Linked DNA regions of Homo sapiens. The protein of the gene in region 2 interacts with the protein of the main gene of each other region in a pairwise test. Each region holds a gene or a part of one and is shown on either strand. Other genes may lie near its edges. The genes, in order: A2M and PRDM1.

Region 1 (15,563 bases), on a different chromosome or scaffold from region 2:
TGGCACGTGGAAAGCATTCAAGACACTTTTTGAAATGAGTAAACATTCAAATTAGAGGGAGGTGCTTTTATGCCATCTATTAAAGCTAAATAAATAAAATGTATTATTTATTTCTCTATAACAAGGTAAAACTCTAAAGAGGCAGGCGTTTTCCATTACCATGATTATGTAATATATATTAAATATGTATTGTATATCCATGTATCTATAGACATGTCTACATCTCTCTTGATGAATAGAGGACTGCATGCTATACCGAATAACTTATATTGGTATGAACAGGTCATCTGGAGAAAATTAGAATAGCAAGACAAAATAAAGTAAGGTAATAATTTTTGGAGTATATATATTTAAAACTAAATGCTAATTATGTTAGAATTGGCTTTTATAGTAAAAGTATCTAACAGTTAAAGGGGGCTTACTAAGTGATTCAACATGTATGATTTCACTTAATCTTCACAACCACCCCAAGAGTCAGGTGTTAGTATTGCAATCATTTTACAGATAAGGAAATGAAGCACAGAGGTTTTAGTTAATTCCTTAAAATAGGGTTGAGCCAGTATTTTTAACCACTTTATCTGATTCAGATTCTGGAATTCACACTTTTCAAAAAAGTTATTATAAACACACACACACACACAACATAAAATTACCATCTTCATTATTCTTTAGTGTACAGTTTGGTAGTATTAAGTATATCTGTTGTGCAACAGATCTCCAGAACTTTTCATCTTGTAAAACTAAACCTGAATACCAATAAGAGGAATTCCCCATTTCTCTCTTTCCCTAGCCCTTGGCAACCACCATCCTGTTTTCTGTTTCTATGACTTTGACTACTTTAGAAACCCCATGTACGTGAATCATACAGTATTGGTCTTTTTGTGACTAGCTTATTTCACTTACCATAACGTCCTCAAGGATCATTCATGCTGTAGCATGTGACAGGATTTTCTTCCCTTCTCAGGCTGCATAATATTCTGTTGTATTTATATACCACATTTTGTTTACCTGTTCATCCCTTGATGGACATTTGGGTAGCCTCGATCTCTCAGCTATTGTGAATAGTGCGGCTATGAACACGGGTGTGCAAATAGCTCTTTGAGACCCCGTTTTCGATTCTTTTGAATATATGTCCAGAAGTAGGATTACTGGATCATTTGGTAATTCTATTTTTTAATTTTTTCAGGAACTACTATACTGTTTTTCATAGTGGCTCCGCCATTTTACGTTCCCAGCAACACTGCTAAAGTCTAACCCGCACTTTTAATCACAATATACTGCCTTCTTTTCATAAACTTTAAAAAAGTTAACCTTCAATCGGTTTCTAATTGCTAGTTTTTTTCTCTCCATAGAACTAGACACAGTTTGGAAATTTTCTCACCCTTAGGTTGCAACCTTGTTTCCAAGGCTACTTCATGTCATTGGTAATTTCTTTCCAAACTTACCCTAACAGTAAGAGAGGTACCCATAACATTGGTGGTGTTGATAGAGAACTGTACAAGGCCATGCTCATCCGTGGTAGCATTGGAGTAATAGTTTGCTTCATTTCCTCTGATGAATATGACTTTATTTGGTATAGGGACGCCTTTCCCATCTACTAGGCGCACCTGAAGATTAAAAGCTGTGGATTAGTTATATTGGTAATAACTAATAGGCACCAAACATATTCATTTATCACATTTTTTAGTGCCTCCTCTATGTTGAACATGGTTCCAGGCACTGAGGACACAGCAGTGAAAAAAAACGAAGTTTCTTCCATCACAGAGCTTACTGTCTAGTGAAAGAGATAGATGCTAAATAAATATATACATAACATACACTAATTTAGTAGTAATCAATCCTAAGAAGAAAAACAGAGCAGTGTGAAGGGATAGAGAGTGATAGGGATAATAACAAGAGTGACCTGAAAAATGTCTTCTAGATATTTTGGAAGTGCTGTGTATTATTATATATAACTCTTAGAGAGTCACAGAGCACTAGAGTAATATGATAATGAAATATTTTAATCTATTAATCTATTAACTAAATTTATTTGTGCCCCAAACACCTATTTTGGAGTGGACCATTAACTTCCTATAGATTAGTGTCTGAAGTCTCATAAGTGCACAAGTAAACAATTGCCAATACATTGTCCTGTGTGTTTCTCCAGTTGCCTTAGACATGGTCTCTGCTTCTCAACCTAGATCTTCAGCCTTTTGGAAGGTAGGCAGATTTTATGACACACTTCCCATGTGAAAAATATAAAATTGAAAAGAGGCACACAGTATTAAATAAGTTGCCAAATCTAATTTACTGCTAATATTGTATTGGCAGTTGAGTAGTCCAGTTCAGATTGTAAAGGTGGCAATTCTTTTTCAGTATAAGCTACAGTTGGTAGCAGGAAGAACAATAGGCTGACCCCCATCAGTACTCATAATTGATTTACAAAATCTAAGTTTGCCAGTGAAATGTTGGCTGCATGTACAAAGACAAGAATAGGCACATAATTCTGATTTTCTTCTAGCTAGAGAGTCTTATGACAAATAGGATATTTAACAGCAATAAAATGTACTTACAAAGTACACTATCTTTCTGAGAAATTTACAAATGAGCTACACTTTCATTTTAGGAAGTTGAATACATTTTGGTGTCATGACATAACCAAGCCTTCTAGAATGTACTCCACTTTGTTGAGTCTATGCCTCTTTTACACCCTTCATAGCTGAAATCCTGTAACATTTACATTAAGAAAATGATACACAGTAAATACACATTGAGGCACATGTAACTGTGATCTCAGACTTCTAGAGTCATAAAGATCCATTTGCACATCTGCTGACAACAGAAAAATTGTAAGAGAAGATTTTTTTGGTAGATAACATGAAAATTCATAATTCAAAAATCTGAGAACCTTAAATAGCAGTGTTTTACCCCATGTTCACTGTTTTAGAAATATACTTGTTATAGAAAAATAGTGTAAATATACTATCCATGAAATAAACATTATTGTAGAATCTTTAATACTTCAAAATAAAAATTAAAACCACCTACCCACCTGTTTCCATACAAAGTTAGTGTTAGCATCGTAATGAAACTGGTCAGCATGAATTTTGAGATTCTTGTGAGAAAATGTCATAAAAACCTGAGACTGCCTGGTAAACCATGAGAAGGAGATTGAGTGACTTGTACAATGCTGTTTCAAAAGAAGGGGGGAAAACTCTACTAATTTTAATAAGGCCTTAGGATAATTACATACATTTCATACACAAATTTACAGAAGAATAAATCTATTTTTATGTAGTTTTATACCTTTGGTTATACTAATCAAGCCTTGGTGATATTTTATACTTTTGGTTATATTAAATGATAACATTAACCAGGCATGGTTTTAGCACAAACCATAACTATTGTGCTAATTAGGTAACAGTACATGGGTTGATGAGTGAACTGGAAAATACTCCACCTGCCCAAAGAAGGGAATTCCCTGTCGAAAGTGTGAGTCCACTTTCACAAATGAGAGTTTGGTTATGGTTCTTGTGATTTCACTGGACTGCCTTCCAGTCAATTCCACCACTGAAAAAAGAGAAAAAAATCTGTTATTTTTGGGAAGAATGATGTCTCTAAAATTCTATCACCTCCCCCCAACTTACAATTCATTATTTGGCTAAGAAAATCAATGCCTGTTGTGTTTTCTCTTATACCCATGTAGTACACAAACCTGTTCCTTCTTCTTGGATCTGGGCCTCAGTGTGAAGTTTCATTTCATACTCCTTCCTCTTCAGCTGGAAGACCTTGGTTTTTACTTGCTGATAGAAGCAGCCATGGCTGTTTAGCTAAGAAGGGAGAAAATAAAATACAAAAATATAATGCATATTATACTAAATAGATCAGTGGTCAGATAACCGGTGTGATTTTTGTGGGGGGACAACATCATGTAGGCATTTTCTATGACGAGGACACAATAAATATTCTCTAGCAACTAAATATTAAATTTCACAACAATATCTCATGTATAATTGACAGATGTATTCCTTGGTATCTGAAATTCCCTAGATATATTGCGATAGAAATGTCTTAAAATTTGAGGAGTAATTTTTTTTGTACAAAGGATGCATAATATTTATACATATTTATGGGGTACACGAGATATTTTGTTACATGCAGAGAATGTGTAATGATCACATCGCGGGATTTAGGGTGCCTACCAACTCAAGTATGTATCATTTCTATGTGTTGGAAATAGTTCAAGTCCTGTCCACTTGCTATTTTGAAATACACAGTACATCTGCTCTTGACCATTAGAACTCCTCATCAAAGTCTGGTTCCTCCTCCATAATATTCAGCTGTGGCTGGGAAGCGGCCTTCTATATGGGGACTGTGTTTGTCAACTCTCTGGCATCTTGGTGGGGCCATGTGATAGGTTCTTGTTCACAGAGAGAGCAGAACTGATGGCCTGGCCAGCTAAGGCAATTAAGAGGTGTATGGTTTTTTCCTTCCTTTGTAGAAGTGAATGCCCATGGAGGCTTTAGATGGCTCAGTGTCTATCGTTCTGAAACACTCACAATGGGCAATTACGAGAAATAAATAATTCCCATTGTGCTAAGTTCATGATTTTTTTTGAAAAATTACAATAGCCAACATGGAATTCTCTTCTAGATTGTTCTCTTCCTGCGTCAGAAAAATGCTGCAACTCACTGCTTTTCAACAATGCCTTTATCGCTATTCTCTAGAAAAAATAGTGTTCAACCTACCTGTCCACTGAATTTCTCACAGAAAGCCTGTGAATCTTCACCGTGGCAGTCGGAAGCGTCACTATACTTTCTGCAAATGCTCACAGTCACATGTCCAGGGACAGGCTTCCCATATGTGTATCTGTCATGAGAACATTCCCAAAGGAATCAGAGCAGACACTGAACCTCCCCATTTTCTAGCTATTTATATCTCCCCTTTAGCTACAGTATATTCCCTGTCTGTACTTCCCTCTGCTCTCTGCTGGGCTCACACAATATTGAAGACAAGAGTCACTAATGGCTCTTATAGAAATCTCCATTGCAACATGCTGAAATTTACATTCTTCTTTTATCATTTCTTTTTTTTCCTCGTTTTTTTTTAGTTTTATCTTAAAAAAGTCTTTCTTATTATAAAACTTAAACCCGTTCTTAAAAGAGAAACAATACCAGCAAGACGAAACAAACAAAACAAAACAGAACAAAAAAAACCCAAACGCCCTCAAGTCTACCTAGGAATACAAACTATTAGTACGATAGTGTCTCTTCTTCCATCATCCTCTCCCCATGTGCAGCCATCTCTATATCGAGTTTCACTTGTTTATTTTATTTTATTTTATTTTATTTTATTTTATTTTATTTTTGAGATGGAGTCTCGCTCTGTCGCCCAGGCTGGAGTGCAGTGGTGCGATCTTGGCTCACTGCAACCTCCACCTCCTGGGTTCATGCCATTCTCCTGCCTCAGCTTCCCAAGTAGCTGGGACTACAGGCGCTGGCCACCATGCCTGGCTAATTTTTTGTATTTTTTAGTAGAGACGGGGTTTCACCATGTTAGCCAGGATGGTCTTGATCTCCTGACCTCGTGATCTGCCCACCTCAGCCTCCCAAAGTGCTGGGATTACAGGCGTGAGCCACCACGCCGGGCCTGTTTACTTTTTTACAAAAGTGGGATTGTGTCGTAAATATGTCATAGACAATTGCTGGGTTTCCAAGTGCATTTGTCTCCTTTCCTATTTGAGAATGTCCTCTGTATGTCTATTTGCAAGATCACACCAGTTATGAGGAACCAGGAACTTGGCCATCACTGTGAGACAGAACTGGAGCAGGGGCCTAGCTGAATAGTAGGTGTATTACATGTGTGATCTTTGGACAGGACTATACCTGCTCTTCCTGCTACTGCTACTGTGTGCCACCATGGATGGGAACATAAGATCCAGGAAACAAGACTTTTCAAGGTTGGAACAGACTGTCTTGAGAAATCACGTTCAGTCTCTTCGTAAAAATGTCAGTGCAGACAGGTATGTAGACCCGCCTTAGGTGGACTAGTGAGTTAGATGAGATTTCAGTTGTATGCCTATCTCTACAAATTCTGAATCTAAGTGATTTTTCCAGTAAGCATGCAAGGTCAGGTAAATGATCTGTTGATGATTGAATTTCCCCTATAGCCATGTGTTAATTATCTCCCTAATATACGTTTGGTTATTTTTGGTTAAGGCAGAACCAATACCCTTCAACACTATCCACCCTTCCCATTTTGTGTGTGTGTGTGTGTGCAGTTTTGTCACTTTCAGAATCAATCCTATTAGCATAACCTCTCTAGAAACAGTTTCTTACCTCATGATAGAATAATACTGATAAGAACGTGAAAGAAAATAAAAATAGAAAAGCAACAGGAGAATAACATTCTACAGATGAGGATGCTGTCAAAGCACTTAAAATTTTTGTGTTGCCACTGCTCCCGGAGAGAGTAGTTAAAATATCCCAAATGGTGAGTCTCTTTTAAATAATCCCCCACAAAAGATTTTTAAAAAATGAACTCACAGGCCACACACTGATACATTCATCTCTTCTTCCAAGATGGTGATTATCTTTGGCACTGTTACTTGTACTTCAAACTTGGGAAGAACTGTTGATTGGTGATAAAGAAGGTTGGTGATTGGTTTTCAACTTTGGGGGAATTCCTATTTTCAGGTTCCCTGTAACAGTTCCCTAATAATATTTTAGGGCTCTGAAAAGGTAGCTCTGCTCTCCAATCTATTCTTATCTATCCTCCTCTCAAATGAAGATTTCAGTTGAGGGACTATGAGAGATCACTGTGTGCTTAATTAATTATGGAAAACTCCATTAAAACAAGAATGTTTTAATTTTGGGGGTTGGTATTAAATATTGCTACAGAAAATAACGAAGCTATGTGAAGTCCTATTCACAGATCACTGATGTCCTCATTGGACTTAGGTGTAATTAATTCTACTCCAAGCCCAATGTCACCCATGGGAAATGGAAAGACTCCAAATGAACTTAAATTCCAGGACCTAAGAGTTTAAATATGAAGAAAAATAATGCTTGATGACTTTTCATGATCCATACCAAATTCCTCCACGGTGAAAGGGTGCTCTGTCCTTCCACCTGATTTCTTCTGTACCACCACCTTGTAGGAGCCCTGGAAGGGCTCTGATGAGAGGGGAAAAGAAAATTGCTTGAGGCCACCCTCTAACTGGAAACTCTGCCATTGTGCGATGCGATTTCCTTTGGGATCCTATATGAGTAAATTAATTATAACTTACAAAAGCACCTGGAGCATTGGAGCTAATAAAAGATATCTATGGAAACCCTAAGTTATCTACAAAAAGGTCAAATGGGGTAGTAGTAAAGGGTGAGTAGAGGAGATGAGTTATAGCCATCTAGCTCTATGGGAGTTTGAAGGCTTCTCCTTTAATGACAAGTTTCTGAGATATTGTAAAAACCTCTGAAATAAGAACATTTTCCCTATATGTATTGCTTTCCTTTTAATATGGAATGTTTCATGTTGCTTACCTGAATGTATACTAGTGGAATCTGAAAGACAAAAGAAAAAAGAAGTTTATAATTATTTTCAAATATTCTTAAATCTCATTTATAAGCAAAGCAGCTAGTATTTGCTAGCATAACAGGGTGAGTATAGTAAAAAATAATTTAATTGTACATTTAAAAATAACTAAAAGTATAATTGGATTTGTTCGTAACACAAAGAATAAATGTTTGAGGGGATGGGTACTCCATTTATTGATACAGGCATGCAATGCATGATAATAATCATTATCCATGATTGGATAATGATATGGATAATGATAATGATTATCATCCATAATCATTATCATGCACTGCATGCCTGTATCAAAATATCTCATGTAACCCATAAATATATATACCTGCTATGTTTCCACAAAAATTAAAAACAATAAAAAGTTTAAAAAATCTAAATTAGTTTCATATAGAATAATTCCCTCTATAGTGAAATACAGAAATATTCCAGATTAAATTTTATAGAACTTTTCATTAATCTATTTTAAGCAATTAATAAATAATGTTAAGAACTTACTAGGCCTTCAGCAACAAATATACATGTAAAGTGCCATTTACTAAAAATGGATTAACATGTCTTAAGTGCTTATAGCATCCTAGTGAAGATCAATCCTTTGCTATGCAATTTTACAGGTTGAGAAATAAACACTTATGTAACTATAAGTAAATATGTTCAGATGTAATCATTAAGATGGGTCATAGAATTCTTACGTAGTTCTAAGAATGAGGAGGAATGGACATATTTCATTAATAAATTTAGTTTAATAAATATTACTTTTAAAAATGAATAAACATTGATAAGAAGCTACTATGAATGTTTATTCATTTTTAAAAACTAATCTTTATTAAGTACCTTCTCATGCGCTGTGTATCATTCTAGGTATTGAGAATATAACCACGCACAAAAGAACAATAAACCATGTTTTAATGGAGCTTATGTTATAATAGAAATAGGCAGATTTTTAAAAATCAATACGTATAGAATGGTGGTAAGTGCAAATAGAAAAACAAAGCCAAGTTAGGCTGACAGAGTGATGGGTGTGGTGCCTCATTTTAGACAGAGGAGTGAAAGTAGAAGCTGGGAGACCACTTTGAAGGTTATTGTAATGATCTTATTTAGAGATGACATTGACTAGGACTAGCTTGCAGCAGTAGTTCAGATGATAAGAAATAGTCTGAATATATTTTAAGCCAACATGATTTTCCAGTGAAGTGGATGTGGGTATGAGAGAAAGAGAAACAAGAACTAGGCCATAATCTTTTGTCTTTGGAGCTAGAAGAGAAGAGTTGCCTCTTTTTGAGATAAGAAAATGTGAAGAAGTTAATTTGGGAGAGAAAAATGAAGACTTTGGGTTGATGTCTGCATTACAATAGAAAGAACTGTTTCTTATCACAGATACCAAGAGTTAGTCTTGAGGAACAAATTAATTACCCTGACTTTCCTTTATAGTGAAGATTTTGGTAGATGTGTATAGAAAAAATCTAAATCTTTAAAATGTTTTTTGAGCTTAGGTTCTTTGAGGATTTTTCTGTGTCTGCTATTGAATGTATCTTTCTAATTGTCCTAATTAAGAACCATCCGAAAAGTAAATTTAATTGTGTGACAACTGACTGAGTACCAGCACCAAGACAGAAAGAATTACCTACTTTCTTTACCTGGAATGATGTTTTAGATTAGGATCTTGTGCTGTTGTAATGCCAGAAGTTACTGTTAATGATACCAGATTCTTCCTCTCCCTGGTCTTCCCTCAGCACAAAAAACAGGTTCCCAGCCTGTTTATACAGACAATCATTTTATGTAGATAATAGAAAACTCACCAACTCATTCAGGGGGTGAAAGTTTTCATCCATGGAGACAACACGAAATTTCACTGAAACAGAAATATTTTTCATGAGCCCCCAAACCCAAAGTAGGCCTGTAGGCTGGTAAGACAAGCTATTAAGGAACCAAGATTATAGGAACTTTGCCTGGGGAACATCCAGGGGAAGAAGATCTTTCCTTTTTGAAGTTGTCCTGTCTGTAGGCTTCTTCATACCTGTCTGCCCTGGTTTGTAGATTGATTTGTCTGTCTGGACAAAGACCAGACTGTCCTCGTTCTTAACCATCACTGTGGTCCGCTTCTTAAATTCTTGGGTTGGTCCTTTCACTTGGACAGTGAGGAACATTACCTCCTCATTGGATGAAGACTTTGGGACCTGAAATACAGGACCGATCCTGAAACCCCATTCAGCACCCGCAGGTCTCCTCCCCTATTTGCTGTTGCACTCTTCCCTGGAGATCTTGCCCTTCTTACTTAACTTCACTCCCTTGTTCTCAGCAGGGAAAGTTGGCATGGACAGGAATCACTTCTGCCATTTTACAAATGGGGAGACAGGACACAAGGTGGAGGAAAATAAATCAGTAAGAGAGGTTGTAAGTGAGATTCACACCTTCATACAGCTCACAGAAACAGTCTTGATTCAATTATACGCTGAGCTTTACCAGGCTGATATTACATGCTAAAAGGGCATGGTCGAAGCATGTTTTACAGGCTATGGAAAAAAACCCCGTATTTTACTGACACTAGGCTGTAAGCATCTCACATGTGGACAACTCTGAAGAGATATTACACCTTTGCTCAGGGTAATTTCTACAATTTTTACTCTTAGAAGTAGTGTGGAGTGATGTGTTCCTGTCAGTCCACCACGGGTGGCTCATGTTGAGCCTTGGTCTAGTTTGCTTTATTAATATTTTTTCCATCTTAATTTTAAGAAGTCACATTTTCTTTTTTTTTTTTTCCTTTCTGGCTAATAGGGTTTCTATGTGATTATTAAGCTGACTTTTAGTTTGCCTGTAAATATTTGTCTCCCATGGCTGGAGAGTCATGCATTGCTCCTTAATTTCTATACTTAGTTTGCTACATTTGGATTCCTTCCTGCAGTTCTTACCAACCTCCCAAAGCCTCATCTGACAGAATACTAGATCCCTATGACCCTGACTAAAAGAACCAAGTATATTAAGTCAAACAGCCACACTCACAGCGAAGGCGACACAGTGGAGTACGTCATTCTCCGCCTCCAGGTCAGTGAAGAGGCTCCTGTTTCCCCTGACAGACTCCAAGGAAGCACTTACAGTCACTGTCTCATTCAGGTAGCTCAGAAGGACACAGCCCTTCTCAGTGGTCTCAGTGTGGAGCAGGGAGGGGACCAGAACCATATACTGCCTGGGAATGAGACGGTTCAGTTAGAGGAAAGTGAAGGAAGAGAGGCATTGCTATCAACAGCACTTTTTTCCATCATCATAATTATCATCATCAGTTCTACACCAAGAGAAGATGTACTGATGAGCATGAAATTTGGCCGTTGAAGGCCATGCATAAGAATTATTTCCCTTTTCCCTCACATGCCATGGCAGTGAACATTTTACTTGAGGTAGGTCTTAAACAGATTAAAACTTGTAGGCATGCTTCACTTTAAGGAACAATTTGTGAACATCTGAATTCAAATAAAAATATGTAGTTACATTTGTTCATGTTGTAAAATCTATTTTTACCTTCAAGTTGCTGTAAAAAGTAAGCAAGCTCTCAGTCATGCGGACATTACAAAAACTAATCAAATTATAGAATTTTCATTAAAATATATATACACACATACATACATACACACATTCAGCAGCCCTGTGAAAATTGTATGGTAAGCACTCGCTTCCACTCCACAGATATGGAATCTGAGCCTCAAAGAAAGTGAGCCATTACTTCACAGTCTCAGTTGTGGTAAGCAGCTAATAAGGTCTTAAGAGTGTTACCTAACCATGGATGTTTGCATTTTAAATATTTGCCTTTCAGCTCATGATTAGACAATGGCTCCATCCAAAAATGGTCCTCTGGTGATTGACTTTAGACCTTGGTAACTCATGTGCAGTACAGAAACTTTCTCAGTACCCTGACATGTAATTTAAGATCAACCCTGTAGTTTTTATACATTTTTGCTCACAGAACTCCTAAAATAATTTTTGGACTCTGTGCACTCCTTACATATTTTCAAGTAAACATATTTTTATCATGATTTTAAGTAATAGCAAAAGATATTATTTTTGATGATATTTTAAATTAATACTTAGATTACTTTTACAATTTTCTCATGAATAATAAACACTGTAGTATAAGATACCTACTATCACTATTTAAAAGTACATTAAAAAATTCTTTTAATGGTCTGATATTTAATATCTTTCTCTTCTTTTTTCCTTTTTGAATTTGAATTTCCATGCCAATTACCATACAGAAATTTATCCTAAATTTTTATATTTCAAAAAATGTTGTGAATTATTCTTACTTCTTTATTGTCAAGCATCTATACATATACGTATGTATACTTATGTTCACATATATACATATATGAATACATATACATAAATACATATATATGTAACATATGTGGGTAGGTAAATTTAACTTTAACTCCTCTTTTAAATAGAATGTAACCATAAATTTATAAATATTAAACATTTCCTTCTGACTGAGCTATGTTCAAAAATACTTGTATATAACTGATCAAAACAAAATAAATACAAAGTATGATTCATACATATTAGATATAAAATTAAAATACTTTTGAAGCACATCTTTAATGAGAATGATGAGCTGTTTTTTCCCCCAGTGAATTTATGCATCCATGGATTGCAAGAATTAAACAACATTAATTCTGTTACTATTTTTGTTTTGTGTAGCTATAAGTGCTAAGAAGAATGGCTCACATAAAAGTAAATAAATGGCAGGTAAAACAATTGCATCATTGTTACCACTTCTTGCAACTTCTGCATTACATGCCAAAAATCACCTAGTACTCTATTATCAAGAATCCCTTCTCATCACTCATCAGCTGGTATTTCCTTCAGTTCCTCCTTCAGTTGTGTTGAAACAAAGAATTCATCACCACCTCATCTGCAAAAGGATTTCTCTTCTGACATTAGAGTCCCTTGCTTTTTCAATATCAACACCAGTATTTCAAATTGTTCCTTTATTTGGCACTCTATAGATTTTTATACTCCAGGGCATTGTTCCATGTTTGGTTGTGGGAGAGAATTGTCTTTATTTTTATAAAATAGAAAATGGACCCTTGAGAAAGAGGAAATAAGAAAAGATAAATAGCATGGTCTCAAGTAGATCAATATGAATGTGAATATCTAAAATTTATTCTTTTAAAAAGCTAAAAATTTCTGACACCCCTTAGGAAGGCTTTGCATATTAGAGCTTCAGAGAGTTGGGGAAGAATGATTAAAAGTAAGCAAGTAATGAGTAAACTAGATTTGTAAAATCTGGAAGGAATCTTAGAGATAAGAAGATGACAGTATCATAGGAAAGAAAAAGGAATGATATAAAGAAAAATCTGCAATAAATGAAGGACTCTAGGTTCATGCTTCACGCTCTCTGTGTGGAACTCACGGTTTTCCAGAGACTGAGGCGTCTGTGGGCAGGAGGACCAAGAGGAGAAGAACCAGACTTGGATGAAGGAGTTTGTTCTTCCCCATGTTGCAGAAAGAAGGAGCTGGAGGAGAACAGACTGTATTGTACCCTACTCCCTACAATCCATCTGGTCCCAAACACTTCCCAAAGCAACTGGGCTTTATGCTGCTCTGTGTGCAAACAGGAAGTTCCACCCACACAAGATCTCTAAACAAAGTTGAGGTCTCTGAACATTCTCTGGAAAGGTCATTGATGGCCTATTTATAGTCAAGGTTAATTCCTGGCGGGCTAAATAGAATCCCTGGAGGGCTAAAACTACATTCCCATTCCCGTAAGAGCTCACTTTTACCGTACAGCAGCTAATAAGCTTTTCAACCTCTTCTCTCCCTCACTCCCCCACAACTCCTCACAACGCCTTTTATGGTGCTTCTCACATCTCTTGTATGAATAGCTGGCAAGGAAAACTACAATTTAAGCAACACTGGGCAGGCTCAAAATAGATATTTCACTACAAGTCAGTGTGGCTGCAAGTTCTCCATTAGATATGCCTAACCTAAATGTTTGAAGCCACATCAGAATTCAGTAGTCCTCTTTGAAAATGGCACGAATTAAACCAGTAGCTTTTTGACATTAGGGATATTACTGGGTTGCAGATGAAGAGCCAGGCCCTGGAAGAATGATCATAGAAAAGAGTTTCCTGTTTTAAGAAAGTGAAACAAAGAAACGTGAAGTAACAGGACTTCAAAAACAAATTTTGACCTATTGTGCCTAACAAACTTCCCAATTGCCTTTACCATCGACTACACAGACTTCCTTACTGCCTTCCAAATATGATACTCCTCTGCAAACTTTAAGTCATATAAATGATTTCATTAATCCATCCATCCACCCATGCATTTATTCATCCATCTATTCATGTAGCTATTCAGTTGCTTTGTAAGTATTTTTTGATCCTACTAGGGCTAGACATCATGCAAGATTCTAGAGATAGGGTGGTCAAATAAGTATGAAAACAGGCACTTAAAGATTTTACATTCTTGTTGGGGCAAAAACAGACAGAAAAACAACTACTGTATAAAATACAATATAACACCTACTGTATAAAATACAGTATAAAATACAATATAAAACTACTGTATAAAATACAGTAGCCAAACATATTATTGCAGAAGTTCAGGATGCTCTGGGAGCACATAAGAGAGCACATAACCCAGACCTGGAACCTTTTAAAAAAATTTTGAGGGAAAGCAAAATGTAAATTAAGCTCTGAAGTATGAGTAGTGGTTGTCTCGAAGAACAAAGAGATGAAAAGAGCTTTCTAAGCATAACGAATGACAGATGCAAAGGAGGGAGAAGAATCACGGCACATGCATGAAATGAAAACTATTTGGTATGGAGGAAATATTCCTTTCTGATACTTCAAATCAGAAAGGAATTTGTCAACAATATTAAGGTATTCAGAGGAGTACTCAGTGGATTGACTTCAGGTTTGTTTCCTGGAAAGCTTGCTCTTATTGAAATTTGAAAGGGCAGCTAGAAAGAGGTGATCCAGGATGCAGGAAGACCAGATGGGAGCTGGTGTAATAATATAGGTGAAAGCTGATGGCATTTTGAACTATGGAATTTGTGGTGGTATTGAAAAGAGCTTGCAGATTTATATCATATTTAAGAGGTAATTATAGTGCTCAGTGAATATATCAATGTGAGGAATAAAGGAAAATGTGTCTTTCCATTTTCCTGGCTCGTCACGGAGTGAATTGTGTTGCCTTTAGCTGGGTGAGTGAAACAGAAGAAACACAGATTGGTGGGAGCAGAAGGAGGACAGAAGGGCTGAGGGTTGGGAAGATGGAGTAAGTGCTTGTGGGATATTCACGTATTAATATTCACAGGAGTTTGACATTTGAATCTTGAGCTTACAGCAGTGTGGTCTACTAGAAATAGAATGTGATCGCCCTGTGTAATTTTAAATTTTAAATTTTCTAGTAACCACATAAAGAGAAACATTAAATTAATTTTAATAGTGTATTTTATTTAATCCAATATATCCAAAATATGATCATTTCAACATTTAGCCAATATAAAATTGTTAATGATATCTTAAAGACTTTTTTTTCATAATTTGTTTTCACAAGCTGGTGTGAATTTTATACTTACAACATAGATCAATTTAGGCTAGCCATACTTCAAGTGGCCAATATTAGACATAATATAGGTAATATTTTTCAGATTATGGTGTTAGCATCTAAGTGGGTTGTAACATCATGCCCTGTGAGTCATGACCAGGATTTTAAAAAATGAAAGAGAATATAATAAAAAATACAGTGTATCAGACAGAATAAGTGAGAATAGTGATTTGGGAAACATCTGTTTCATATACATGCAGCAGAGGCTGGTGGTTGTTTCCTGTTACCACTTCTCCAATTCTGCTTTAATAATAGAACTCCCGATCCTTTGCTGGGTGCAGACTGCCTAGTTGACTTCTATGTTTTTAACCCACTCCCTTGAAGCTGGGTATGGCATATGACTAAGTTCTGGTGACTGGAGGGCAAGTGGAAGTGATACATGCAACTTT
Region 2 (15,563 bases):
CTTTACTATGAATATTGGACAATGAAATGTGCTTGAAAATGTTAAACCACCATTTAGAAAAAATTCTGCCAAAATAAAAGGGGACATACTGCATAAATAAAAAGGGATAAATAAAAGGTGTCATTTCACAGTATATATGACAGTTGCTTCTGAACACAAAGTAGAAGCACTTGAACCTTAAAATACTGTGCAAAACCTTTCTTTGAGGAATAAAAACGCCAGGCCTTTAAACCCTTCCCTTGATTGGCACAGGGTGCGGGAAGCATGCAAAAAAGTTTCTTGGTGGTTGGTGCAAAGTCACTGGGGTAGGTCACCTCAAATGAACTGTTTAAAGAAAAGCAAAAATCAAAAGACTTTCCTCTGAATCCATGAATGATTAAACTCAAGGAATGTAAGGAGACCCTTAAGTGGAAGTGGCTCACTATGTTAAGAAAGCCAGGAGGGAGCTGTGCGCTTCTTCTGAGACGCACAGCTGGAATACGAGTTCCACAAAAATGCCACTGTGCCTGTGCATTTGTCGTTTGTTACTAGGTCCTCAGCACTGGGCATGGCATACACAGATGCCACAACAGCCGAATGGTTCCTGGGAGGCTCAGCCCTAGGGATATGACAGAGTCTCCAGAGTCTCGGGGAGCGCTGAAGAGACATGAGGGAAAAGAACTGCCACCTTTTTGGTCAGGACCTAATTAGACCCATTAAGCTGGAACTGGGGAACTGAGAGCCAGTTCTTTTCCTGAAGCTCAAGGGTAACCTGTTGTGTAAGGACCCCAAACACACGACCTCCCCTACGGGGGAGGTCCTGATGCTTTTATAGCCCCAGATTTTCAGAAAAACTGCAAACACAATCTTGCAATCTTAAGGGAGATCAAGTAAAATGAAGTGTGGAATGAATACCAAATAACCATACAGTTGGATTATATATGACTAGGGTAAGTACTTGGCTTGTTCATTGGTCCTAAAATCAAAGTCAAAATTCCAATTTATGTTAACATTGATATTTATTCCAAATGTCTCAAAGGTGAAAATGAGAACTAAAACAAGTTAGCCTTCTGGTAAAGCAAATGGATATACTTATCAATAACTGGTAAACCTGGGTAAAGGGTAAGTGGAAATTCTTTGTCCTTTTCTTCAAATGTTTTCTTAAGTTTGAAATGATATCAAAACCAAAAGTTACAAAAACTTCAGCATTTAGTCTTAACTTCTAAACCAAAAGGAATAATTTTTAAAACTGCTAATAAGATTTAGTGGTCTAACCAAGAACACACAACCATAGTTACAGCAGAGGTTAGAATCTTATGGCAATTCTTAAATTGCTCAAAGAGATCACTTGAGAATGACCAAAATGATGCAGCCCTCTGCAGAGAGAGGTCATGACAGCAATTTTAATCAAATAAAAGAAGTAAAAGCACATAAACCTAAGGAATTGAGAATTTGTTAAGATAAAGTGATAGGTGGCTACTATAATACTGATCAAGAGATCAGATAGTTTTTTTACTGTAAGGAAGGAAGCTAAGATGTAAAATCTTTACGGTTATTCACTTAGAATAATATTGAAAAATTATGACAAAGTTTTTCTAGCAATGATCTTACAATGTTCCACATCAGATCCTAACTGTACACTCAAATGTACATCTATAAATATTTTGATGCAGTCTAAGCCCTGCCAAAGTACCACAGATGAGGGCTATACCTTGCATACGCAGCATGTCTGGACCAATCCCTGTAATTCTCCCAACTGCTTTTGGATAAATTAGAATTGGACATATATTTCTTCCTGTAACATCCTGAATTCAAAACTCAAGGTAGCTCCTCATATATATATATACTTTTAAATGATCAAGTTTCCTAATAGTTAATAGGGACTCAAAAAATGTTTTTCCTCTTCCTAGTCCCTAGCTTAAGCCACCTACTTCATCCAACACATGACAAAGCCGTATAATTAAACAACATGTTATTAGTTCAAAGGGGCAGAACCGACATTACTGGCATTTTTTATTTTTTTGTTCTGTAATCCACTTACTGAGATTCATCATTGTCAGCTCTCCGGGATAAGGGTAGTGAAGCCTTTCTGCAAAGTCCCGACAATACCACACAAGAAGTTCCTGGTTGGCAGGGATGGGCTTAATGGTGTAGAAGTAGATGTTCATCCCGTTCTGACACGCAGCCAGGTTTTGCTCCCGGGGAGAGTGTGCTGGATTCACATAGCGCATCCAGTTGCTTTTCTCTTCATTAAAGCCGTCAATGAAGTGGTGAAGCTCCCCTCTGGAATAGATCTGTCCAAAAGAGAAGACAGGCATGTAAAAGGAAGTCAGACCCAAAGCTCCCCAGCACCTCTCAGAATAAACACAGCCGGTACCGTGTGTGATTTCTGATCCCCTACTGCCTAGTTAGAAAAAGAATCCAATCAGTTTAGCCAGAATAGTCTTGAATCAGCAGAAATCAGGGCGGAAACAGGTAAGGCACACTTTTGTCAGTTACCTTTTCCATTTCAGTTTTATCGTCTTTTCATGTTCGGGAAAATAACAGAAAAATGAAACACAAATGTTCATTTAAGGAGCTGCCTCAAACCGATTAACCCACCACAGAGTACTACTTTTGCTACTGCAGTGAATGGCAAATGGGCGATGCTACTGACTTCAGTTCCGATTATGCTGACTTTTAGTGCTTTGAGTCACTGGGTAGAAGACCAAGCCGGCTGACGACGTCAAACTGAGTCTTAGCTTTTTCTATGGCCTCTGTACTCGCCGTTTCCTACACCCCCGCCCAAGGCTTCAACTATGCAAACATCCTCCACCCCCAACCCTCCAAGTCCTAAAGTAACACTTGTTCATATGAATACTTGGAACCTTGCCTTTTTGTGGAAACACTGGGTGGGGCAAAGGTGAACTTCACCTGCCATAACAAAGCGAACACTCGGGCAGCAGCCCGAATTTGACAGTCTATTACTGAGAAGTCACTTTTCCTCTTGATAAACATGTCCAGACTTGCACTTTCCTTTCAATGCAAAGGAGGGAAGGGAACCCCTTATCTGGGAGGAGGCTGGCTAAAACACCACACACAGAGCCATAGGCGTGTGTTTTTGGAAAAAGAACAGGAAGAAAGTATGTTGTTCCTTAAAGGCAACGCAGAATGAAGAATTTGAAGTTTGTCCTAGAGTAATACTACTTCTGGATAACAGATGCACTCAGGCTACTTGGCAAAGAGGCAGAGGAAGAAGAAAAATTAAAACGTACACTCTTACTGAAACTATAAACACACTCCTTATCCTTCCACACAAAGTTTTCTCTCTTCCCCTCTTTTTAGGAGGTACCACCTTTACTTTAGACTTTAAGAAATTTCCTTATACAATCAGTCAATACCTAGTGTGATCTGCGACTTGCAGTCTCCAAGCAGCAGTAAGGCACTGTTCGTAGCAGGAATTTTGTGCTCACCGGACAGCAGGTTATTGCTTTTCCTTACTCACGTACCGACTATGCTAGTCTACAGATAGTTTCTGTATTTCGCTCAAACGTTATCAGAAATAAAAAGGAACTCTGTCCCTTTAACACAGGCGGTAAACACCAGAATCACTTTCTTTTAAGAGTAACTTCCTGTAAATTGTGAAGGGGGAAATACATGTGGCTTCATCAAAGCAGCTTGTGAGAGCTTTTGCGGTGTGTTTTGTTAAGAGAAAATGGAACAAGGCTGGGTGAATTCTGCTATCAAGAGGGGTTTTCAAGTTTGTTTACTCTGATGTGCAAACTTCCAGGAACATGGGGTTCCATCGCTCTTGTACTCTTCGCTGGTGCGGAAACTGCTTTCTAAAGCTACGGGTATGTTGATTCCAGTTAGCCTTCCTCGGACTGCAATTTACTGTATCCTCATTTAAAAACAGCAATGTCGGTGCCATGAAGTCACTCACACAGAATAAAATAACGCATATGTAAAATGAACACCGTTTCCTACCACCTTCCTGCACTTCCATATATTATCTAGAAGATTAAAATGCGCTGATTCATAGTACAGTTACAAGAAATGTCACTGGTTTCTCAACTTGAACATCCCTTCTTTGGCAGTGTAATTTGCATGAAACTTTTTCTTTCCTCACAACAGATGTTCATATTCCTGCCAGCAAAAACGAGATGTTCTACAATATCCTTTGCATGTGAAAGACTGATTCAAATAAATCCTCCCAAGGAAAGCCTTTCAGTTACTTACAGTGAATCTTTAAATGAAACAGGGAACTGGACAGTGAGGGGGAGATTCTTAGGTACTTCTTGCCTTTTCTCAAAATAATCACACATTAATGAGACTTATGCTGGATTGTCTTAATTCAGACCTTTAACTCCAAGAACTATGCACCTTTGTGGCTCACTTCTGAGAAGACGTTATTGACAATAAAGGCAAAAATGCACTCATGGTTCCACCATTGTAAGTCAGGTGATTAATATATTTTAAGGAGGAATAATTATTAAATAAAAATTGTGAGCACATGATTCTTAGTGAATCTGTAACTACCCTCTTTTGCTTGGGAAATAGTAAGATAAATTTCTAAAAATGAAAAACTTCCTGGATTAAAAATATTGTTTCTTAGGAATAGCTTCTTGTCCGAACGATATAATCGTTCTAGGCAAAAATACCAGCTAAAGCAAGCATAACACAATTTTTGTTATCATGCAGCTGTTTCTTTTTAAAGAATTCAAATAATGTACATTTCATGTAAGTATGCACAAAAAAACGCTTACTAAATTCTTTATCTTCTGAGGAAACTAAATATCCCTGAGACATCTATGGGAAGAAGGAAAGCAATCTGACTTTTTTCTGTTCACTGCTAATCCAGTGTTTTATTCAAGGATTCCATCTAATTGGTTCACCTCTGGGGGCCTTTCTAACCCTAATATAGCAAAGGAAATTGTACTGGCTAGATCTTTTGGTTGGATGCTATAGGAAAGCTTATCATCTTGCATATGACTGTTAAGCATTTTCCTTATGCTATGAGATAATTAACCTATTGTCAAATGGAATCATTTTACCATGCACATGTATTTAAATAGGACTAGTTCTGTGGTCCTCCATTCCCCTCAACCCATCTTCCAGCTATCCTTCCTTAATGGCATTTACTTATAAGGTAATTCATTTGTCATTCCTGGCTGGGCGCGGTGGCTCTTGCCTGTAATTCCAGCACTTTGGGAGGCCAAGGTGGGCGGATCACGAGGTCCAGAGATCGAGACCATCATGGCCAACATAGTGGAACCCCGTCTCTACTAAAAATACAAAAATTAACTGGGCATGGTGGCGCGCACCTTAGTCCCAGCTACTCGGGAGGCTGAGGCAGGACAATTGCTTGAACCTGGGAGGCGGAGGTTGCAGTGAGCCGAGATCATGCCATTGCACTCCAGCCTGGTGACAGAGTGAGACTCCATCTCAAAAAAAAAAAAACCAAAAAGATAATTCATTTGTGATAACTCTTCCATTCAATTAAAGTTAAGTCAGCAAGAAATCAAAAAGGGGTGAAATCTAAGGCTTGGTAACTCATTACTACTTCCTTGCGGAGAAATGCAAATGAACCTATCCTTAAAGCAAGCAACAAACTGTTTCCTTTCATTACAAAGCTCTAATGAATTGCAAAAATCAAGATTCACATATAGCCCGTATCTCCATCACTAACCACCTACAGGCCAGACATTTCATCGGTTTCATCACATTTGTTCAGAATTCCCTGTGTCCATGGGGATGCTGGATACTTATGGGTGAGCCCCAGCATTTCTCAGCACAGGATGAGAAAGGTGAGCCACCCAGCTCTTTTAGCTCCATTTTTTCCTAACATTTAATGGGTCTGAAGAAATTTCCCTTACTTACCCTCCAAAAATATTTCCTGTTGGCGTTCTTAGGAACTGTGTCATTGGTGTAGATTTCACCTATTAGGGGTCCAAAACGTGTGCCCTTTGGTATGTATTCTTTACTCATCACTCCAATAACCTAAACAGGAAAAAACACAGGAAACAATTACTTTGACTATAAAATGTTAACCAATCTTTTCAATTAAATAAATTGGACTGTCAAGTAGTAATACAACTAACAATGATAAAATTTTGATAAGTAAACAGACATTAATGATGCCTACATAATTAACAAGCTTCACCATAGGGGGAGACCATCTTTTAAAGTCTGAGATCATAAGCAAATACTCAACCAAGCATTAAAACAGTCTAGGGGATTATTGTCTGGTAATACGGGATCTTTTATTTTTATCATTACTTTTTATGCTAGAACAGCGAATATAACCATTCTCTTTTAGAATGAGAATAAGACACTGCAGAATTAGATGGTCAAGATTAGACCATTTCAGCCTGTTCCTAGTTTCCTATTTCTCATTCTCCCTCAAACCATAAGCATAGTGTGCTTGAGGGGAATAAAATAGTTCTGACCTCAGAAACCAAAATAATGTTCTTTGGTTGTTCCATAACAGCCTAAGGAACCAGAAACCAAATGCATTATGTTTTTTTCATTCCAGATGAGGTTTGTGTGTGTGTGTGTGTTTTTTTTTTTTCATAGCTTGTACATTCTCTTTAATAAGAGATCTTTCAAGTAACTTTGTTCTTCTCTGGCCTTCTACTTTGTTCTTCTCGAGTCTTCTACTCAAGAGTGGTCAAAGGCCCTCGTGTGTGTGTGTGTGTGTGTGTGTGTTTTAAAGACAAGGTCTCCCACTATCACTCAGGCTGGAATGCAGTGGCTTGATCTTAGCTCATTGCAGCCTTGACCTCCTGGGATCAAGAGATCCTCCCACCTCAGCCTCCTGAGTAGCTGGGACTACAGGCATGCACCATCACGCCCAGCTAATTTTTGTTGTTATTGTTGAGAAGGGGTCTCACCATGTTGCCCAGCCTTGTCTCAAACTCCTGGACTCAAGCGATCCTCCCACCTCGGCCTCCCAAAGTGCTGAGATTACAGGCTGAGCCACCATGCCTGGCCAAAAGCCCTCCTTTGAAATTAAGTTTATACGGAGGAAAGCTGTAGGTTCTAAGATCTGAGGAAATGACCTCAGACTGGATGCATCACACATTTTAACTTTGTGGGGCCTTGCTAAAGAAACATGTTAACTATACCAGTTCCTCCTTAATAATAAATTTCTCTTTGAAGGGGTAAAAAAATCACCAACCGTGAATCAGGAAGCAATTCGTCACTATTCAATAGAACTCCTCTGTGAGTAGTCCTTTACAACAGTTTGCAGTTACAGTTTTGTTTTGGTTTTTATTCTCTCACTTTCCTAGTTTTATTTTCTTCTCATTCAAGATAGCCTACCTATCACTTTACTGAATTCTTTACTAAAATGGACCAAGGAGGAGGGAGTGGTAATAGATGATAATGTTTATTTTCCAGTTTTTATATTCCCAGTAGCTCCTGTACATTCATGTACCTGAAATGGTAGACTCAAATATGTGAATCGATCCATGCACAGATTGTTCACAGTGGAATCTACAATTTTGGTTACAATATACACCAGTTCCTCATTAAGTCTCATCAATAATTTAAACCTCTATTTAAATAGATATGGCACACCTACATGCCTGTGACAGACTAGCTTTTCTCATTTAAGTGTCTTATCAGCCAATGATTTTTTTTTCTAAAACAATTTAGTATTCAATATACAAATCAATGAAGCATACTCAGACTGGAAAGAGAAAAAAAGAAAATTTTCCTACACCTAACATAAGTTGAAACAAGAGTGTTATTTTTGGTCCTTTAAGAATTTCTGTCAGAGAGCTGAAAAAAGCAGATGTTCATTTCATCCTCCTCCTCTGCCTTCATTTACATCTATCTGCCCTTTTAATCACCGTTTGTCATTATTGGTATTTGTTGGCAGTAAAACTACTGGGGACAAGAGTATCTCAGAGCAGTCTTGAGATATAAATATATATATTTAAAGCTTTAGTAGACTTATTCAGAGGCTCATTGTTTTGGACATATTATTATTGAATCTAATTAATTTGGAAAATTAATGGAATTGAATTCTATGACATGCAAATCATTTAACATTCATATTTCAGTGATTATTCCATAATATTAGAATGACAAACAGGAAAAACAAATCATGCCATTTGTTGGTGAGCCAATAATTAGCAGTTGATATTTTCAACATATCTACTTTACAACAGTAATTTTAAGAAAGGCACTCAACTGGTTCATCAACTTTGTTTTAAATTATAGTCTCTTACAGATGGTGTCTTGGGAGTCAGAGCTTGATTACCAAAACGGAGCACTGCACTGAGGTCGTGGTTCTTCTTCCAAATTGCCATTCTTTTACAGAATGGGCCTCTAGGTTTTCAGTTATCCATCTTACACACATTTTCTTGTGCCCAAAAAGAAGTCAACTAGAAAGCATAAGCTACCCAATACCTATTTGAGCACAACTATAGACTCATCACTAGTAAGCTATAAAGCAGCACCGGAAGTAGCTCTTGCCATCTCTAACCTTACAAATTCAATTCAACAGGCAAGACAGGAGAACAATTAAAAAGAGAAGGCTCTGTGGTAGAAGAGAGGTCTATGATAATCCTCAAACCCCAGACAAATTAAAGAGCTTCAATATTAGCTTATCATTAGGAAAGGGACAGAGCGCCCTAATATTTTAAATTTCAATTACATACAGTGCTATAGGGCACATATAAACTCACACCTATAGATAAAGATACAAAATCATAAAATTTCAAAACTGGAAGGCACTTACAAACCACCTATATCCATTCTAAGTCTAGCGTTCTAATATACAGTAAACATCTTCATCTCAAATGCACGTCTGAGACACAGACGCCATAAAAGCTGAAACTCTAAGACTATGGTGCTTGTCCAGGTAACTTTGGAGGGGGAACAGGAACCAGGATTGTTTTTAAAGGGAAGTGAAAAAACCAAGTACTAAGTCTCCCTCTGGTCCTAGAAAGATCCAGAATGTGCATCTTAGACTACCCATCTCCCTGACCCATAGTTTGTAACAGTTTATCTTTGAACCAAGCAAATACTAAGGAGGAACTTGGTGTGTAGCTTAAACTTCACAGTGCTAAAAAGACAAAGAATGTGTTCACCTAACTCAAGAAGGAAACTTCACTGGAACTGACCAGGGTCCTAAAGAATTACTGCTGGGGACAGGCCGCTCTGTGCCTTCTATAAACTCAACAGCAAGAGGACACCCGGCTTCAATACCTCCTTGCTTCACCTGCTCCCACAGAAGCTCTTTATGTGCGGTGCAGACCCCTCCACCACTTGAGCAGATTTGTTTCTGTCTGTGGCCTCAGTTACAGAACACACCCCGCCGTCCACAGTTTCCACAGCTTCCGGACAAAACACAGGGCTTCTTTTCAATTTTACACAATGAAGGAGATTTGACAGCTTAGGATGGGTTGAGTTGGAGCGCTTAATGGAAGGCTGATAACAAGGACAATATAGGTTTGTTTTTTTTTTTTTTTTTCAAATTCCTTCTTTAGAGAGTATGCAAACAGACACACACAGCGTGGGTTTGAAGCAGAAACTATATCCAAGTCTAAATGTCATCTGATCATCCTCTCCCCAAATTACATTAAGATCATTTAAATTACTAGCTATCTGTTTTCCCTCCCCGAATCCCACTCTATAAGAATGACTCGTTAGATTATAATTCTGTTTTGACCATATGAATATTTGTCTTGAGAGAACTAGAACTCAGTAGTGACCAAGACCTTCAGCCTGCAATCACCTCATTTTTATTTTATTTTATTTATTTAGAAACAGGGTTTTGCTCTTGTTGCCTGGGCTGGAGTGCAATGGCATTTATTTACTTATTTATTTTGAAACAGAGTTTCACTCTCGTTGCCTGGGCTGGAGTGCAATGGCACGATCTCGGCTCACTCCACCTCCCAGGTTCAAGCGATTCTCCTACCTCAGCCTCTCAGGTAGCTGGGATTACAGGCGCCCACCACCACGCCCGGCTAATTTTTGTATTTTTAGTAGAGATGGGGTTTCACCATGTTGGCTAGGCTGGTCTTGAACTCCTGACCTCAGGTGATCTGCTGTCCTCAGCCTCCCAAAGTGCTGGGATTACAGGCGTGAGCCACCGCGCCCGGCAATCACCCCATTTTTAAAAGGAGTGAAGTGAACAAAGTTGTTTGGAGAAGGTTTCCTTCTTCATTATCTTTCTATTAAAGGAGACATGGTGATGCCTTGGTACATCATTTCTCAAATAAAAGGCAACATGAAGAGAGAATTGCATGTTATGGTGAGATACTTTTTACAGATGGCTTGAGTTAATAATGGATTTCGATCAGAATGGACACCAAAGGAGTCCTCACAATCTGTCTGATGTTTATCAGCCACGATACAGGGAGGTGAGACTCACAGAGCCACAGTGCCTCTTGAGTGCAAGCAGTCTCAACCGACGGCAGAAACTCTACAGGGTAACGCTTCTAAAATATAAATGCTTGAACTGATTTTTCTGTAGTCAAGTAGTCATAAGAGATTATTTCAGGAGGACAAGGGGAAAACCCCCATAAAAGAATAACCCATCAGTTTAAAACATTTTCAAAGTTTTGAATAGTAGGTCTATATTTGATTTCAGTTCTGGAAATAGGAAGTAAGAACAGTTTTTCATTAAAGGTGCAGAATGATTCTAAACCCAATCTAAAAATGAGGGTCAAGATCAGAAATATGATTTGTATGTTTTGTTTTAACCAAAAAAAAAAAAAAGGTGCTGACACATGGTACAAATTCATAATGAAAAATGGTCTTGTAAAAAAAAAATTCCCCGGTATGTCAGCACAATAGTACATATTGTAACATCTTTTGCTATTTAAACGAAAACATTTAAAGAAGGGCAAGATTAATAAGTCAGATAAAAAGTACATGTAGAAAGACTCTTCCTATTTCAATGGCTCATGGAACTTAAAGAACTAACTGAATAAAGATAATGTAAACATTTCATCAATCCTTAATGTTGCTGTCCCGGAACTAGTTTGCAGCTATCCTACCCTTAATGGCTCAACTCCACCATCCTCTTTCACCTTCTAAAGGAAGCTGTCCTTTCCCAAAGTTCAAAAACAAAGGAGAGAAACAGAAAAACAGGTACAAATTCCAGAGTAAGCTTAAGACAGTATTACATTCAAGTTTACTCCTTGCTTGACTTTATGATTAGGGTTTAAAGACATACTATCCTCTATTCAAGCGCTTCAGTTAAATGCAAGATAGGGAAATAGGATAAGAGAACCCTCACCTCTTAGGTTAGTTTCGAAGGACCTTCTTCAGGAACACAGGCATTGTCTGTTTTTTGGTTGCTTAATATATTGAAATAGGAAGTTATACATTCAGAGGGAAAAAAACACAAAATAGCTTAAGGATTGGTCTGAAATATATTAAGATGATAACTAAAACCACAGTGACACCAAGAGGGGCCAGTGTAGCATAATCGAGAAGCACTCATTGGAGAAGTCAGAAAAGCTTTGCTTCAAGTCCCCGGTCTGGCTTTACCTATATGCCTTTGGGTAAGTGACTGTCTTTCTGAACCTTGAACTAAATGATCTAAGAGCATTACTTGACTTAGCTATGATTTTAAAGGAGAATGACGGAAATTGAAAAACTTAAGCTAAGAGCTGAACTGACGATAAGAACATTATAGAATTAAAAGGCAAAGATGACCCACAGAATGGAGATTTTTACTTCAGTCCCAAAGGACTGGACAGGGCAACACAGCACAAACGAAGCTTGGGAACAGACGAATATTTGGTCAAACTTGATATGGGGAAAAAACACACTACACTTTTTAAAGCCATAGTCAAACCTCATATACCCAAACAAATCCTACATTCATTCCAAGGGCCACATATTGAGAGACTTTCTATAAGAAGAGCATTACTTTCAGGAAGAGGTATAATTAAGGCTGACCTCTGGGGTTAAATTTTTTGGTAACATTCAACTACAACTAGAATTTAAATTTTATTTTTTATAAAATCTGCCTCCATTCACGCAGCAGTGGGGGAAAAAAGAAAGACTGAGCATCGTTGTTCTATTTAATTTTAGACAGCTGTGTCTCCCCCTCACCAAAAACACTGGACTCAGACACACAAACAGGAAAGAGACAAAGCATTTCCTAGTCTCCCGGATTCCTTCAAATACTGTTCCTTAGGGAAGGGGGAAAGTGATTTGACACGGCTGTAAGGAATAGTCCCAGTAGCAAATTCTGGATTTCTACGGCCAACCATCCCCTTTCCCTACTTTCTGAAGGAAGTAATAGAATTGACAGTGCTCTGTGCTAATGGTGGTATGGGAAGTCTGCTGAGGGGTCCTTTCATTCAACTCAACCCAGTAGTAGACTAGTAAGTGCAACTACAGTAAGCCAAATTCTGAAAACAAGAGGTGGTTCTGCAAGTTATTTCACAGCTAAACATCACGCCTAGCTATAATCTTTATATTAAAGGTAAACACAAATCAGTTGCTCATTCCAAGTTTGGGTTTTCATCCCCTTTGAAACAACAAAGAGTGTACCCACTTCAGAGGCCAGTAAGGAATTGGCCTGCCAGCCCAGCCCCAGCAAAGGAGCTGCTGCAGATAAACAGTGGTTAGCTCTGAAGTCATCCAGACAGAGGACACTTTTACATGACCCCCTTTCTCGGCTTATACCATCACTTCACTTCATAAACACGTCAAAGTTTTGAGGATAGTTTTAGAAACCCAGCTAATAAAGCTGGCTTGTTAAAAAGAGTAAAGCCAACTAATTACCAAAGACAGACAAAAGAAATATTAAAACTTTTTTTTCCAAGAAAAAGTTTTCTCCCTTAAGAGATATTGTACAACAGGGACACTAGGGCCAGTGGGCCCAGAGCTTTCTTGAAGTTCACTGACAATTTCACCCACCCTATGCTGCAAGTTGCTTTTCTAAGACATGCCAATTTGCCAAAATATTTAACTGTTTACTAATTAGTGAGGAACAGTTGAAGGCTGGAAGAAATGAGAAGGAAATGGTTTAGGGAAAGAGAAAGCAATGCAAGAATTGAATAGAGCAATCAATTATTTACTGATACTTACAGATTCTCAGAGGTTTTCAGAGATATACAAGGCCTCAAGGGCAAGTAGGGAGATTTGGCACCAGGTCCCCAATCTTCTTGTCAATAAACCAGAGGCTTACCTCTTCACTGTTGGTGGCATACTTGAAAAGCAGATTCCTTGGTAAGGATGCCTCCGCCTGAACCGAAGTACCGCCATCAGCACCAGAATCCCAGGGGTGGTCGTTCACAATGTATGTACACTTCTCTTCAAACTCAGCCTCTGTCCACAGAGTCATATCCGCATCCTCCATGTCCATTTTCATGGTCCCCTTGGTCCCCTCTGCCAATCCCTGAAACCTCACAGTGCTGGAGTTACACTTGGGGGCAGCCTGGAAGAGAAAGGAAAGGCCTTTAATCCCCATTGTCCCGCCGTTCCTGTGGCTCCTTCTGAGAGGCTATGACTAATACAGTAGTCTGAAGACTTTAAAAGCAGATGCAGAGTGCTTGGTACAGTTGAGAAAGAGCCAAGAAGCCGTATAAAGTAAACTGCCTTGAAAAGAAGCAAGGTTTTTAAATGCTACTCTTAGTTAAAAAAAAAAAAAAAAAAAAGAATGTGGCAACCTCACTGTGGGGAAAAGGAAAAAAAAAAAAAGAATCACCTCTGAACAATCCCTGGCTTTACCTCTCATGGCAGAAAAATGTTCTGGGCACACAGTCCAGTGTCCCAGAATGCCTGGGGTCATGGCCGCCAGACCCTCGGCACTGTGGAAAAGCTGCCTCAGAAAAGTGTCACAAACAAGGAGAGGAAGAGGAAGGAGCTCTGTCTGCCTCTGAATGAAGCTAAAAATGGAAAGCGCGTGTGGTGCAGGAGCGGAACCCAGCCTGCCTTTTCCAAATGGGGAAGACCGAACTTTCCCACCAGCTCCCAACGCAAAACAACTTTCAAAACAACTGCCTCCTCCCTCTGCTGCGAGCTCTCTTTCATCCTCTCACATGGAAGACTGAAAAGGGTTGCATCCTGCCAGCATCACTGAGCTACGGCCTCTTAGAAATCACTTGGACCACAGGAAAAGAGGAGGAAAAATGGGTGAAGGGGAAAACAGCCTGCAGTGTCTTCTGACTTGCAAGCATCTCATACCAAATTGAAAAGGCAAAAACAAAACATAAAACCGTTTAATAAAATTCCCTGGAGAGAATTCCTTTAGGAGTCCTCAGCTACAAATAGCACTTTCCATTTAAATCTGAAAGTGTATGAATTCCCAGAAGTCACTGATGTACTACAGTTTACTGTAACTAAAGTTATAACAAATTTAGAAGACTTGGAGGACAAGCTCTGCTTCCACTTGTACATTGATGAGGATATTCCCCCAAAATCCTCCCTCACACTCAGAAAAAAACTGTTTTCCAAAGGCAAAAAAAGGTAAACAACTTCTGTAAGGGTTTTCTCATATAGACATGTTTGATAAAAATGAGGAATATGGGTATCATTTCCATGTAAGAATGTGTGTTTGTTCAAATGTAAACATAACATTCTGTGGAAGTCCTTCAAGGAGGTTTTTACATTCTTCCACTTCTCTAAATAGGATGCTCTTAAAAAAAAAAAAGTTGGATGCAAAGTTGTTTTTCCCTCAGTTATGATTTAAGCAAACCTGCTTATTTTTATTTAGTTCCAACATGTAGAGTCATGACGCCAAACACATGTTAAAAATAAAATAAAATAGAAAACTTCAGCCAACCCGGAATAGTTTGACGAGTGTGAGCTGGAACCACTACTGAAATTTCAATGAATTGGCAATTATGTCTAGAACTGAAAGGGTTAATGATTCATAAGGAAAGTCTCACAAATGTTTGACAGCACTAAGTGCACTAAAGCAGAAGCATGTTTCTACTGCGACATTAGCCAAAAAAAATTAATAATAATAACAATAAAGGAAAAGAAAATAAAGTTTTCAGATCAATTTCAGAATTAAAAAAAAAAAATTCAAGTTCCTTACCAAGGTCGTACCCACACGTTTTTCCAAGCAAATATCCAACATCTGAGAAAAGTCTCGTTCATCTCTACCCAGTCCACATTCTCCCCGCGTCCCCCGCCAGGCTGAGCCGCACAGACGCGCACCTCGGCGGTCCCTCCTCGCTTCGTCCGGCCGCCCGGGCGCCCGCGTCCCAGCTCCGGGCGGACAGGTGCCGCGGTCGCTGCTCTTGCCTCTCCGCAACACTGGAGGGCCGAGTGTCACGGCAGCACTTTGTCTGTGTTAACCGTCTGGCTTCCCCTCCCTGCTTAAGATTTCCTTAGCCACTCGGCTGCGCGAAGTGGGGGCGTGGCCAACGTGGCCAACACCACCTGGCCGAGCCCAGGGCTTTCCCCCAGATTGCTAGCACAGCCGCCGAGAGCTTCCTCTCTTCGCATGTGTATTTCAACATTGACTTGGAATCTTCTTACTTCCCTTTGAAGGCACTTAACCTCAACGCTTACTTGGGCTCTATTGTATTCTAAACACTCCAGATCGCCCTCCTTCCTGGCGCGGCAGAATTAGGGGGCGCACGTTCCTTAAATTAAGGAAACTTAAAATTTACCTACAC

Evidence for each region.
Region 1: the proteins of PRDM1 (region 2) and A2M interact in binary tests that used the Homo sapiens proteins (3 or more experiments, as listed by UniProt).

What each region holds. Positions count from the first base shown.
Region 1 is NC_000012.12:9,102,794-9,118,356, forward strand, and holds the start of A2M (alpha-2-macroglobulin isoform a precursor), read right to left. Parts: upstream 13,127-15,563; 5' UTR 13,057-13,126; coding exon 12,971-13,056; intron 10,751-12,970; coding exon 10,567-10,750; intron 9,897-10,566; exon of another isoform or gene 9,744-9,896; coding exon 9,584-9,743; intron 9,419-9,583; coding exon 9,366-9,418; intron 7,542-9,365; coding exon 7,521-7,541; intron 7,243-7,520; coding exon 7,074-7,242; intron 6,613-7,073; coding exon 6,528-6,612; intron 4,852-6,527; coding exon 4,731-4,851; intron 3,813-4,730; coding exon 3,698-3,812; intron 3,553-3,697; coding exon 3,443-3,552; intron 1,608-3,442; coding exon 1,446-1,607; intron 1-1,445. UniProt on the Homo sapiens protein: Is able to inhibit all four classes of proteinases by a unique 'trapping' mechanism. This protein has a peptide stretch, called the 'bait region' which contains specific cleavage sites for different proteinases.
Region 2 is NC_000006.12:106,086,010-106,101,572, reverse strand, and holds the start of PRDM1 (PR domain zinc finger protein 1), read right to left. Parts: upstream 15,238-15,563; 5' UTR 15,020-15,237; coding exon 14,978-15,019; intron 13,820-14,977; exon of another isoform or gene 13,727-13,819; coding exon of another isoform or gene 13,643-13,726; intron 13,373-13,642; coding exon 13,124-13,372; intron 5,959-13,123; coding exon 5,839-5,958; intron 3,485-5,838; exon of another isoform or gene 3,360-3,484; intron 2,633-3,359; exon of another isoform or gene 2,488-2,632; coding exon of another isoform or gene 2,479-2,487; intron 2,274-2,478; coding exon 2,021-2,273; intron 1-2,020. UniProt on the Homo sapiens protein: Transcription factor that mediates a transcriptional program in various innate and adaptive immune tissue-resident lymphocyte T cell types such as tissue-resident memory T (Trm), natural killer (trNK) and natural killer T (NKT) cells and negatively regulates gene expression of proteins that promote the egress of tissue-resident T-cell populations from non-lymphoid organs.